Linked DNA regions of Homo sapiens: region 1 is linked to region 2. The links come from fine-mapping of genetic effects on gene expression. A gene starts in region 2. The other region holds a variant in brackets. All regions are shown on one strand. Distances are between the middles of the regions.

Evidence for each region. PIP is the estimated chance that this variant, and not a neighbour inherited with it, causes the effect.
Region 1: its variant is fine-mapped to the expression of KCNK17 in spleen (GTEx, PIP above 0.99). The same link has a PIP of 0.9 or more in tibial nerve.

The regions. Positions count from the first base shown.
Region 1 is chr6:39,342,136-39,347,499 of GRCh38, forward strand. KIF6 (kinesin family member 6) reads right to left here. Exons shown (of 23, transcript NM_145027.6): 20 at 4,341-4,391; 21 at 3,565-3,654; 22 at 1,574-1,680. It overlaps LOC105375047 (a long non-coding RNA gene), which reads left to right. Exons shown (of 3, transcript XR_926774.3): 3 at 504-566. Among named protein-coding and RNA genes, the nearest start is that of KCNK16, 22 kb to the left of the region's middle. RefSeq lists enhancers at 1,160-1,209, 1,192-2,029, 2,704-3,205. The variant C/A (reference allele first, on the strand shown) is at 2,736.
Region 2 is chr6:39,311,545-39,316,908 of GRCh38, forward strand. KCNK17 (potassium two pore domain channel subfamily K member 17) reads right to left here and starts at 2,875. Exons shown (of 5, transcript NM_031460.4): 1 at 2,540-2,875. The coding sequence starts at 2,776. KCNK16 (potassium two pore domain channel subfamily K member 16) reads right to left here. Exons shown (of 5, transcript NM_001135106.2): 4 at 5,238-5,364; 5 at 4,627-4,898. The coding sequence ends at 4,675. It overlaps LOC105375047 (a long non-coding RNA gene), which reads left to right and starts at 2,412. Exons shown (of 3, transcript XR_926774.3): 1 at 2,412-2,680.

The DNA.
Region 1 (5,364 bases), 31 kb after region 2:
CAGGCTTCTCGCTTTCCGCTCTGTCTGCTAGGACTGTGCATTCCCAGAACGCGGCGTAGCTGCTCCATTCTCATGATGCAGCTGTCAGTTTAAAGTTATCTTCTCCAGCAAGGCCTCCCCAACCTACCCAGCTAAAAGCAGTCTTCCCAGTTACTGTCTACAACATTACATAGTTTAGCTATTTCATAGCACTTATTATCCCCTCAAACAATCTTACGTATTTGTCGACGTGTTCATTGTCTGTCTCCTTCCTCCCCCTAGAATGTCAGTTTCTCACGTGCTGGGTTCTGTCTTGTTCTCTGCTGTAGCACCAGCACTAGTAGTAGTGCCTGGCATAAGAAGGCACCCAACATATACAGTGTTTGCTGACTGATTGGCTGTTCATTGCTGTTCAGTGCCTGATACCTATCATCAGAGTATTTGGGGCATAGATGGGGACTTGGAGATCACTGAATCCAGTTTTTTATTTTTTTTTATTTTTTTTTATTTTTTTTTATTTTTAGACAAGGAAACTGAGAATGAGACAAGATCACAGCAGAGGTGGGGCTGTCTCAGGCTTAAGAAAGGACCTGACAGTGTTGCTGAGGCTGCTGGTCCTGGTGGTGAAGAGAGGATAGTAAATAAGCAGGCTGGCGGCCAAGCAAGGCGAGTACAGGACCAAGGCCGGCTCTCAGTTGCGGCGCTCCATCCATGCACAAACCTCTTCCTGCCCAAACTGCACACGGCTGGTGGAGAAGCTGAGTGCAGGCGCCACAGGGCAGGCATCAGTCATTATACATCGAATCTGCCAGCCCATACCATCACGGTGGGGGCGCCTTTCTGGCAATGTGAAGGCAATGTTAAGCCTGCCTAGTAGCCTTTGGGTTATGGGGAGGAGGCTAAGACAAAATGCAGGCCTGGGGTAAGGGGCCCTGGGGCTTGCCCTGTGGGTGTGTTGGGGATGGAAGGCAGAAAGAGAAAAGGCCCAGCCACAGCAGATGGGAGATGGGCAGCTGCCAAGAGGACGGGGCTGGGGGTGGAGGGGGCAGTGATGCAGACCAAGAAGAGCCTTCTTCTCTTCCTGTTGTCTGACACGCCACTCTTACTTCCTCTGTGATTGTTATGGTGTCCTCGGGCCTGGGCCTTCAAGCAGTGTTTACACTCACAGCTCTTTGGCAAGAACCACACTCTGATAGGGGAGTGAGACTTTAAGCCAGGGGTTCAACGAGTTACCAAAACATCACTCAGCCCCTTCCTGTTTGTAGAAGCCTGAGCAGAGGAGACAGCTGACTTTGGGAACAGAGAACAAAGGAGCTGAAGATCTGGAAGAGACAGAGAGCAAGCTCTGCCAAGAGGGACAGGAGCACCTGGGCCGCCCACCCACTTGGGCCTGTCTTGGTGTTTCTGATGCTGCCCCTTGAGGCTTTCTCGAGAAGGAATCAGAGGCTGGGCACATGTGACTGACAGGCAGGCCAGTCCTGTGGCTTCAGGAATATGCAGGAAACTCCCTACTCCCCTCCCACCTCACTGTGTGCTCCCCACAAGTGTTGGTGACCTGCTGCCCAGGAGGAGCCACCGAGGGAGGTGCACTTACATTGCTTCTGCAGAATGCTCTGTCTGGCCTTGATGAAGGCGATGATGTCCGAGTCCGTCTGGCTGTCTCCGGTGAGAGGGATGGACGACACTGGCCTCTTGGGGATGCTGGAGGCAACCACGTGTCACATTTTACTACACTTTACAACTGGACTCACCACTTATATTTCCAAAATGCTTTTCCATTTTAGGTGACTGATCTCACTCAGAAAGCTACATGACACGGCTGGCCTGCTTCTCACTCCCTCCTACCTTCTCTGTGTGGCAGCCACACTAAGCCTCTTGTCATGCAAATTGGGTCAAGTCATTCCCTGCCATAGACCCTGATATGGTTTGGCTGTGTCCTCACCCAAATCTCATCTTGAACTGTAGCTCCCATAATTTCCACGTGTTGTGGGAGGGACCAGGTGGGAGATAACTGAATCATGGGGACGGTTTCCTCCATACTGTTCTCGTGGTAGTGAATAAGTCTCATGAGATCTGATGTTTTCATACGAGGTTTCCCCTCTCACTTGGCTTTCATTCTGTCTTGGCTGCCACCATGTAAGACGTGCCTTTCACCATGATTGTGAGGCCTCCCCAGTGACATGAACTGTGAGTCCATTAAATCTCTTTTTCTTTATAAATTACCCAGTCTCAGGTATGTCTTTATCAGAAGTGTGAAAACAGACTAATACAGACCCTTTAGTGGCTTTTCACCACTCATGGAATAAAACTTAAACTCTGTCCCATGACCTACCAGGCTGTGTATGATATGACCCCGGGTCAGGGGCTCCAGCTGCCCCCTTTTCTTTCAGTGACTTGCATTTACCAAGCCACTTCCAGCCTCAGGGCCTTTGCTCTGATGCTTCCTCTCCCTGGACTGCCCTCCCCACCACCCGTCACATGGCGGCTGTGCTTTCTCTCGCTGCCTTCTCTATCCTCTTACCACCACCACTCTTGTCCTCCCATCCCTGATTTACCCAAACCAGCACCCCTTAACCTGGGGCCCATCAACTTCTGTGCCCAGCTTAGATGTCATATCATTCAGTGCTGTGTCCTCAGAGCACCCTCATTCCCCACGTGGCTTAGCTAGTTGACCTCAAGGCAGAGATTACTGTTCTCCTGTCTCTCCTTAAAAACAGAATCATATTTAGCTAAGTTGCCACAACTAAAAAAACTAC[C/A]TTTCCCAGACTCCTTTGCTGCGATGTGTGGCCGGGTGACCAGGTGCTGGCCAATGAGATTTGTAAGTAGAAGTGTTGTGTGGGAATCTCCTTAGAAAGGGAGGGCTGTGTGTGCCCTCCCCCATCCCCTTTTCCATCCAGCTTCTCCATATAGCATTCCCCTTCAGCAAACTCAGAGCAGTACACTTGCCTGGCCTTGCCAACTTTCCGTCCATCCTCACCCCTGTGCCTCTGCACAGCAGGAGGTGGTAGCCACTTCCTTAGAAGGCAGTAAGGACGGTATGTAACAAGGGGCTGGCCATTCCCGCAGGTAGTTTGGGTGTTGGCTTTCCCGCTGCAGGCCAGCCGGAAGCACTAAAGCAGAGTCCAGGCAGGCAGGGCAGAGGCTGTGCTGGTGAAAGAGGCTGAGCAGCCATTCTAGCCGGAGGATACAAATGCCCATGGTGCTGATCAACTCTGGTAAGCCTGGAAGCAAATGCTGCTGGGTCTTCAGGCCAGGCTTGTCAGCTCCCTGCTCTGCTCTGTGGTGGGGCTGCCCTGGGCTGGCTCTTTCCCTTTCTGGCCCCCAGGTACGTCTATTCACAAGAAGATATGAAACAACTCTGCCCAACACAGGGCCCTGGTGACTGTGGGAGAAAACCTCCCCGCTTTGAGTTGGCCTGTGTGAGAGATTCCAGGGAATTCCCAGGGGACCAGGGCAGAGGCCAGACCTGGGTTCTGTCTGTGTGGCTACTGGACGAGGGGCTTTTTCGGGGAGTAGACTGGAGATGGAGGCCCACTCCGCCCACTGCAGGGGCTGTCACAGGCATAACAGGAGAAGACCACAGACCTGTCTTCCAGTGGGGTGCTGGTGCTGCTCTGTTTCTGGCTGTGTGGACTGGGGCAAGGCGAGGGCAGGATTTTCCTGGCATTCACATCACTGCAAAACACAAACAAACAAAAGCAAAAGGAATGGGGGCAAATTTATAGAAGGAAATTCAGGGTTTATATCTAGGAGCTGTTATGGACTGAATGTGTCCTCTCAAAATCCCTATGTGGACACCCTAATTCCCAGTGTGATGGCATTGGGCAGTGGGGCCTTTGGGAGGTGAATAGATTTAGATGAGGTCCTGAGGGTAGGGCCCCTGCACTGGGATTAGTGTCCTTATAGGTATAAGAGGAGGATGAGAAACTACAGTGCTCTCTCTCTCTCTCTCTCTCTCTCTCTCTCTCTCTCCCCCCCCTCTCCCTCCCCCCCTCCCTCTCCCTCTCCCTCCCTCTCCCTCTCTCTCTCTCTCTCTCTCTCTCTCTCTTTCTCTCCTATGTGAGCACACAATAAGAAGGAGGTGCCAGCAAGCGAGGAAGGAAGCCCTCAGCAGGAACTAAATCTGCTGTGCTACGGACTGGAGGTTTGTGTCCCTGAAAAGTCATGTGTTGAACCTAATCTCCAATGTAATGGTAGTAGAGGTGGGGCCTTTGGGTGGTGATTAAGTCATGAAGGTAGAACTCTCATGAATGGGATTAGAGTCCTTATAAAAGAGACATTGGAGAGCTCCCTTGCCCCTTCCACCATGTGAGGATGCGTCGAGAAGACAGCTGTCTATGAACCGGGAAGGGGGTCCTCACCAGACATCGAATCTGCCAGTGCCTTGATCTTGGACTTCCCAGCCTCCAGAACTGTGAAAAATAAACGTTTGTTGTTTGAGCCACTCAGTCTATAGTATTTTGTTATAGCAGCCTGAGCAGACTAAGACAAGAGCCAAGAGTCCTGTCTTGGATGGTTTACACAGTAATTTTCTTTTTTTCTTTTTTTTTGAGATGGAGTTTCACTCTTGTTGCCCAAGCTGGAGTGCAGTGGCATGATCTTGGCTCACTGCAACCTCCGCTTCCTGGGTTTGAGCAATCCTTCTGCCTCAGCCATCCAAGTAGCTGGGATTACAAGCATGCATCACAACACCTGGCTAATTTTTTGTATTTTTAGTAGAGATGGGGTTTCACCATATTGGCCAGGCTGGTCTTGAACTCCTGACCTCAGGTGATCCACCCACCTTGGCCTCCCAAAGTGCTGGGATTACAGGCGTGAGCCACTGTGCCCGGCCTACACAGTAATTTTCATTGTTAGAGCATGCATCTGTTGGCTGTAGCAGCTGAACAACAAACGATGGCCACAACTGTCATTGATAGACACGCCAGGCTTCGTGAAAGTGCTCTGCAAATATCATGCCATTTAATCCTCTCAATGACCTAAGAGGTAGATGTCATCGTCTCCATTTTATACATGAGAAAACTGAGGCTTAGACAGATTAAAGAAATTCTAAAGTTATCCAGCTGGTAAGTGGCAGAATCGGGAACTACTCAGGATTCTTTGAGGCTTCAGAACCTGTGCTCTCAGCCACAATGCCTTCTAACTGGGCTTGACTCTGTGGCATTCTAGGAACACACGCTGGCCTACCCCTGACCACACTGCCTGCCCCTGGGACCTAGCTTCATGCTGAGAGAGGAGTCAGATCCAACAGCTCATTAGATGCAGCTGTGCCTGCTCACCTAGGCTGCTGACATGTGCGCCTTGCCTTGGATTCCTGGCCAAGTGCAGTGGAACCCAGAAGCTCCTCTTGGGAGGTGAAGAGGCGCGTGGACACGGCTGGTTGGA
Region 2 (5,364 bases):
ATAATGGTAATACAAATAGTACCTACTTCATAGAGTTGTTGTGTTAAATAAGGTATTATGTGTAGACTTAGTACCTGGCACATGGTGTTAGCAGTTGCTATATTGCCTATATGCATTATATAGGCATATAATGTTGTAGGACTCTGGGGAAGAAGGATGTTCATTCTCATTTGGGTAGGAGCAGAGGCCTCATGGAGAATGGGATGTTTTAGCTGGGCCTTTGAGGGTCAGGTAGGATTGCTTCTGGTGGAAGGATGTTTAGGTAGATGGGACAGCAGTGCAGAAGGTGGGAGGTGAGACTGCCTGGGACCTAGATTAGGGAGACTGGTAAGAAGTGATTGAGGCCAAGCTGTGCTTGGCTTTGCCATGCCAGGGATGAAGTCGCAGGTATCAGCCAAGGTCACTGAGCAAAGGGGAAGTAGGATCAGGTTTGTGTGCTCTGTGGCAGCTGGCAGTATAGAAAGGGTTGACCAGAGGGGAGAGACTCCTGCAGAAGTGAGTGATAGACGGGCCCTGGCCTGTCTCCTGGCACAGGTGGTCCAGGAGGAACAGAGAGGAGATATTCAGAAGCCCAGGCCTCTGGCCCTATTTAGTATGGGCAGTAAAGGAGATGTTGCAGAGGATTGTGAGGGTGTGTGGACATGGGGCAGACAATCGAGATTTAGGACAGGTGGAGAAGCAGGGCTGGGAGGAGGAGGACCACTTGCTCTTGGCCTTGAGGAATTTCAGAAGTTGCATGTCCACATCTGGTGCTCAGAAAGATCTGGGCTGGATACCACATCCTTATTCCTGGAGTTGGCTGAAGCCACAGGAGTGTTGAGGAAGGGGGTGAGGTGGGGGTGGAGGGAGTTGAAGGGAAAGCCCAAAGAGATGACAGCCTGGCTGGGAATCTTGGGAAGCACCCACATCCACAGGTCCACACTGAGGCAGTATTTATGCTGGTTAACAGCTCCAGCTCCTGGCTATGTAGCCATGCATTCGTATGTAACCTCTCTGAGCCTGTTTCTTCACCTCTGAAACAGGATGATAAAAACAGTACCCACCTGTGAGGGTGAAACAGGATGATAAAAACAGTACCCACCTGTGAGGGAGGTGAGACAAATGAATACGGGTAAAGTACCAGCAACAGTGCTTGGCACACGATAAGTGCTGCACAGAGGCATTTACTGTTATTATAATCACCATCATAGCCATCTCCCTGGGCCCAGGCTGCTTGTAGTCGAAGTTCACCACCTTTGCAAGGGTAATGGCAGGCAGCCTCAGCACCAGGACCCAGCAGTCGGGCTGTATTTGCAGAAGTCCGCAGGTGGGGAGCTGGAGGAATCACTTTAGGTCCTTAGTAGAGATAGGCCTGGCCCTGGCTACCTCCTGACCTCACCGAATCGGCCTAGTCCGAGGGTTCAGAACACCACTTCCGCTCCGCGCTGGGTCCCTTCCCACCCTGGCACGGTTCCCTGCCACCTTCCGGGGATTGGCTTTGGACTGGAGACTCTGGACGGATAAGCCACCAGGACTGCAAGACGGGGATTCTGGGCTGGCGCGCAGCTGTCTGGACTCTGGGCTCTTGGACGAAGGGGTGGGGAACCAAGCCAGGACCCAGGACATCAATGCCTCCGCCAAATCGAGCAGCTGCCAGTCTGGCGTCGCTTCAGTCCTAAGATGCGCCACCCCTAGAACCCTCCCCGGCCTCCTCCGCCCTGCTAGGCCCCACCCTTGAGGAGCCTCTGCTCAGATTTACCTCTGAGTCCTCCCCTGAACCCTGCCTTCAGCCTTTCTGGGCAGCCGCGCGGCGGCGGCGCGCCCAGTCCTTGTGTCCGAAGACTCGGAGTAAAGCGGGTTCAGCCAGAGAGCGGCCCTGCGTCCGCCCTCCTCTCGAACCCGGGTCTGCGCACGTCGAGCCCCCTCTCTGCGTTGAGGGTGGCCCCGACCAGCACGCCTCGGGCCCAATCCACCCACCCTCCGGGACAAACGCGCCTTCCCCCAGGCTCCTACGGCCGCGCCCTCGCTCCTGCGCATCCTTAGACCCGGCGCCCCTGCCGTCCCAGCTCCCAGTTCGCAAACGTGCGCCCGGGTTCCCCCTCTGGAAGCGGCCAGGTGTGGCGTTTAGCTCTTTGCCACGGGTGCGGGTGCGACCAACCCCCAAGCAGGCTCAAACGCGCCCTTTCCCGGGTCAGGCCGGGCGGGGCCGGTTACGCGCGCGCCCCCTGCCGTAGTCGTCCTCGCCCCCAAATTTGGATGTGTCCCCAGGCATCTGCCTCCTCACCGGGCCAGCATGCCCTCTCGCCCCCAAGTAGGACTCAGCCCGGCTTCTCGCAGTCCTCTCGCTAGGGCGAGGGTCTTTTCCTCCGAGGTCCCCCAACCCTCTGGTCCCCGCGCAGGAACGCCCACCCCCGTTGTGCCCGCGTCTGCGTTCCCGACGTTTCCCTGAACAGGAAACACCTGACCAGGGCCTGAATAGGCCCCCTCGCCCTCGGCCCGTACACCCCGCGGCCCGCTACCCCATCCCGCCGCGCCCAGGCCGACGCCGCTCGCCCCTGACCCGGATCAGCGAGTCCAGCGCCGGGCGGTCCAGACACGTGAAGTTCTGCAACAGCTCCCACTTGTCGCGCTGGAAGCTGCGGCTGGAGTCCTGCGCCGCGCGGCCCTCCAGCGTCCAGAACACGCCGGTGCCCAGCGCCAGGTAAGCCAGGTAGGCGAGCAGCAGGAGCACGGTGCTGGGCACCGCGCAGCCCCGGACCCTGCCCTCGGGAGCCGCCCGGGCTCGCGGTCGGTACATAGCGGGAGAGGCGGGGAGCCGGCGCCGGGAGCGGTGGACTAGGACCCGGTGGGAGGGAAGGGCCAGGCGTCCAGCTCGTATCTCCTCTCGCAAACGCCTGCTGGTGCCCGGTTTCGCCGGGGAGGAGGAGTGTTGGGGAATGGGACAGCCTGGCCCCACCCAGCCCTGGGATCCAATCCCCGGGACAAAAAGAGGCTCTGAACTGTGGGCATCTGGCCCCGCCTCAAATGTGTGCGGGGTGCCCACCTGCTAGGCCTAGGCCAGGGAGAAGGAGGAAGCTGCTGGGTGACCGCAGGCGCTGAGGGAAGGGGCCCAGAGCCCCCTCACATTTCCTGAAATGAACAATGGGAGGGACTTCTGGAAACCGCACTCAGAGGTAGGAGATAGTAGAGACCAACTTTATTGTCTTGGGGCCCCTGCCTAAGTTCTTGGACTCGGGGGCTATCTCCAAGGACTTGCTGTCTGTCAATCTCAAGACCACCTTGGGTCTCCCACACCTCTGTCCTTTCCTTTGTACCCCAAAAGAGGGACCCCAGCTGATTGCCACTTGTCCATGAGCTTGGGAGGTAAGAGGAGCCTTAACCAAGAGGCTTGTCCACTCCTTGCTTCTGAGAAGGCCCCCGAAATCCCTCTACCTGGAGTGGAGGAAGCGTCTAGGCTGTGTGAAGAGTCCGTGGGTCCTCAGCTTCCCAGTCCTTTCTTGGATATGGGGAAGTCCTGGGGTGTGACTTGGACTCCTCTTGCTGCTGTAGAGCCTCTCCTGGGTCTCCTGCCTGGAGCCGCCTTGGCTCCACAGCCTTGCCTCAGACCTGTGCAGAGGAACCCAGCCACATAGGAGCCCACTTGCTGTTGGATGATGGGAGAGGCAAAGGCCAAAATTTCCAGGCCCCGGGATGGAGTGGTCTAAATCTCTCCTGGTCAGGGATGTTGCAGTCTGGCAGGGGAAAGGCCAGACCTGGAGAATGCATTCCTGAGAGAGGCCAGACGTTCATGGAGCTCACTTTCTGGAAGGATCCTGGGATCTGCTGGCTCTCTGGCTTCCCATGGGGTGTTTGGAAAGGCTCTTGAGAAGGCAGGAGCCCAGAGGGAGTGATGAAGTTAAGGGGGTGGCCTGTGAGGGTCAGGGGAGGCCATGTTCAGGAAAGTGGGTAGGACACCCAAGAGGTCCTAAGCTTTGTTCACAGACAGCCCTGGACTTCTAGGCAAGGGGAGCTGGCGAGCTTTGAGAGGCAGCTCGCCTGCCCCTCGGCTGAGAGCTTCCTGAGGGCAGAGATCCTCTTTTCACTAAGATTGTTCCAAAGTCTCTGCCCAGGTCTCCCCTCTCTTTGATGCTCCCTGCCAGCCATTCCCATGGGCTCTCATCAACCCTGGGGCTATTCCCATCATAGCATTTTGGGCACTGTGTTGGGGCTGCCTCTTTGCTTGCCTAGCAACTAAAGGCACATCAAGGGCAGGCACTTCCACTGCTGTATCCCCAGACCCTGGCACAGACCCTGGCACAGCACCTGGCACATAGTAGGGGCTTGGCAAATGCACTGTGCACATATCAAATGAGGCAAAAGTAAAGTCATCCTTTGTTTGTGTAAGGTCTCCTGGAAGGGGGCATGGGGAGGGCAGTGGAGATCTGGCCACTACCTTTGGGTGGAAGGCTGTGGCAGGGGCTCTGGGACAAGGGTACACCTCCCCATCCACACATGTCTTTAATCCTATCTCACGTCTCCTCTCTGTTACTTTCTTGGATATACCTGTCTCCTTTCTCTCTTGGGAGAGCTCCTGAGACCAGCCCTGGCTGAGAAGTGAGGGGGTTGGGAGAGGAGAAAGCAGGGCTGGAAATCCAGAGAGCAGATAGGGTGGGACTGGGGAGGATGAAAGGGGTTTCTGGGCCCCCCCCGGGGGCCTCATGCAGAGATGGGGATCTTCTGAGGCCTGGGGAGCCCACTGGGGTCAGAGGCTGCCCCATCCTTGACGCCGAGGCCCCTACTGAGCAGCCAGAGCTGGCAGCATCTGTGCAGAAGCAGGGGGCCCAGTGGGAGGATCAGCGCCAGCCACGCCAGGCCCAGGAGGATCCAGATGGCTGCCAGGCTCCGATACACTGAGATATAATGCTTGCTGGGGTCTGTGCCTGCCAGGGAAGGGAATGGCATCAATGCCAGGGGTCTCAGGGCATAGCCACCTCCAGTTTCCATAGGGACCCTCACCAGCCAGGATGCTCTCTCCCTCTTCCTCATAACAAGGAACAGCAGTTGAGGTAGGTCTCTGCAGGGTGGTGATGGGTCCTAGACCAGAAACTTCTGAGAATGTTGCTTAGAATCCACAGTAGTCCCAGAAATCATTGGTTTGGCTCCCTTGAATGACCAAGGGCTATCTTATCCTCAATAGTTGTCCTCAGCTGACATCTCTCCATCCCCCAAATCCCAGTGGGCACCCCCACCCTGAGATAATGTGACTGTTTTGTTCTCACCAACAACATAGTCCCCAAAGCCAATGGTGCTGAGAGTGATGAAAGCAAAGTAGAAGCCCTCGCTGAAGCTCCAGCCCTCCACATGGCTGAAGACCATGGGTGGGAAGATGAGAATGACCAGCGTCCC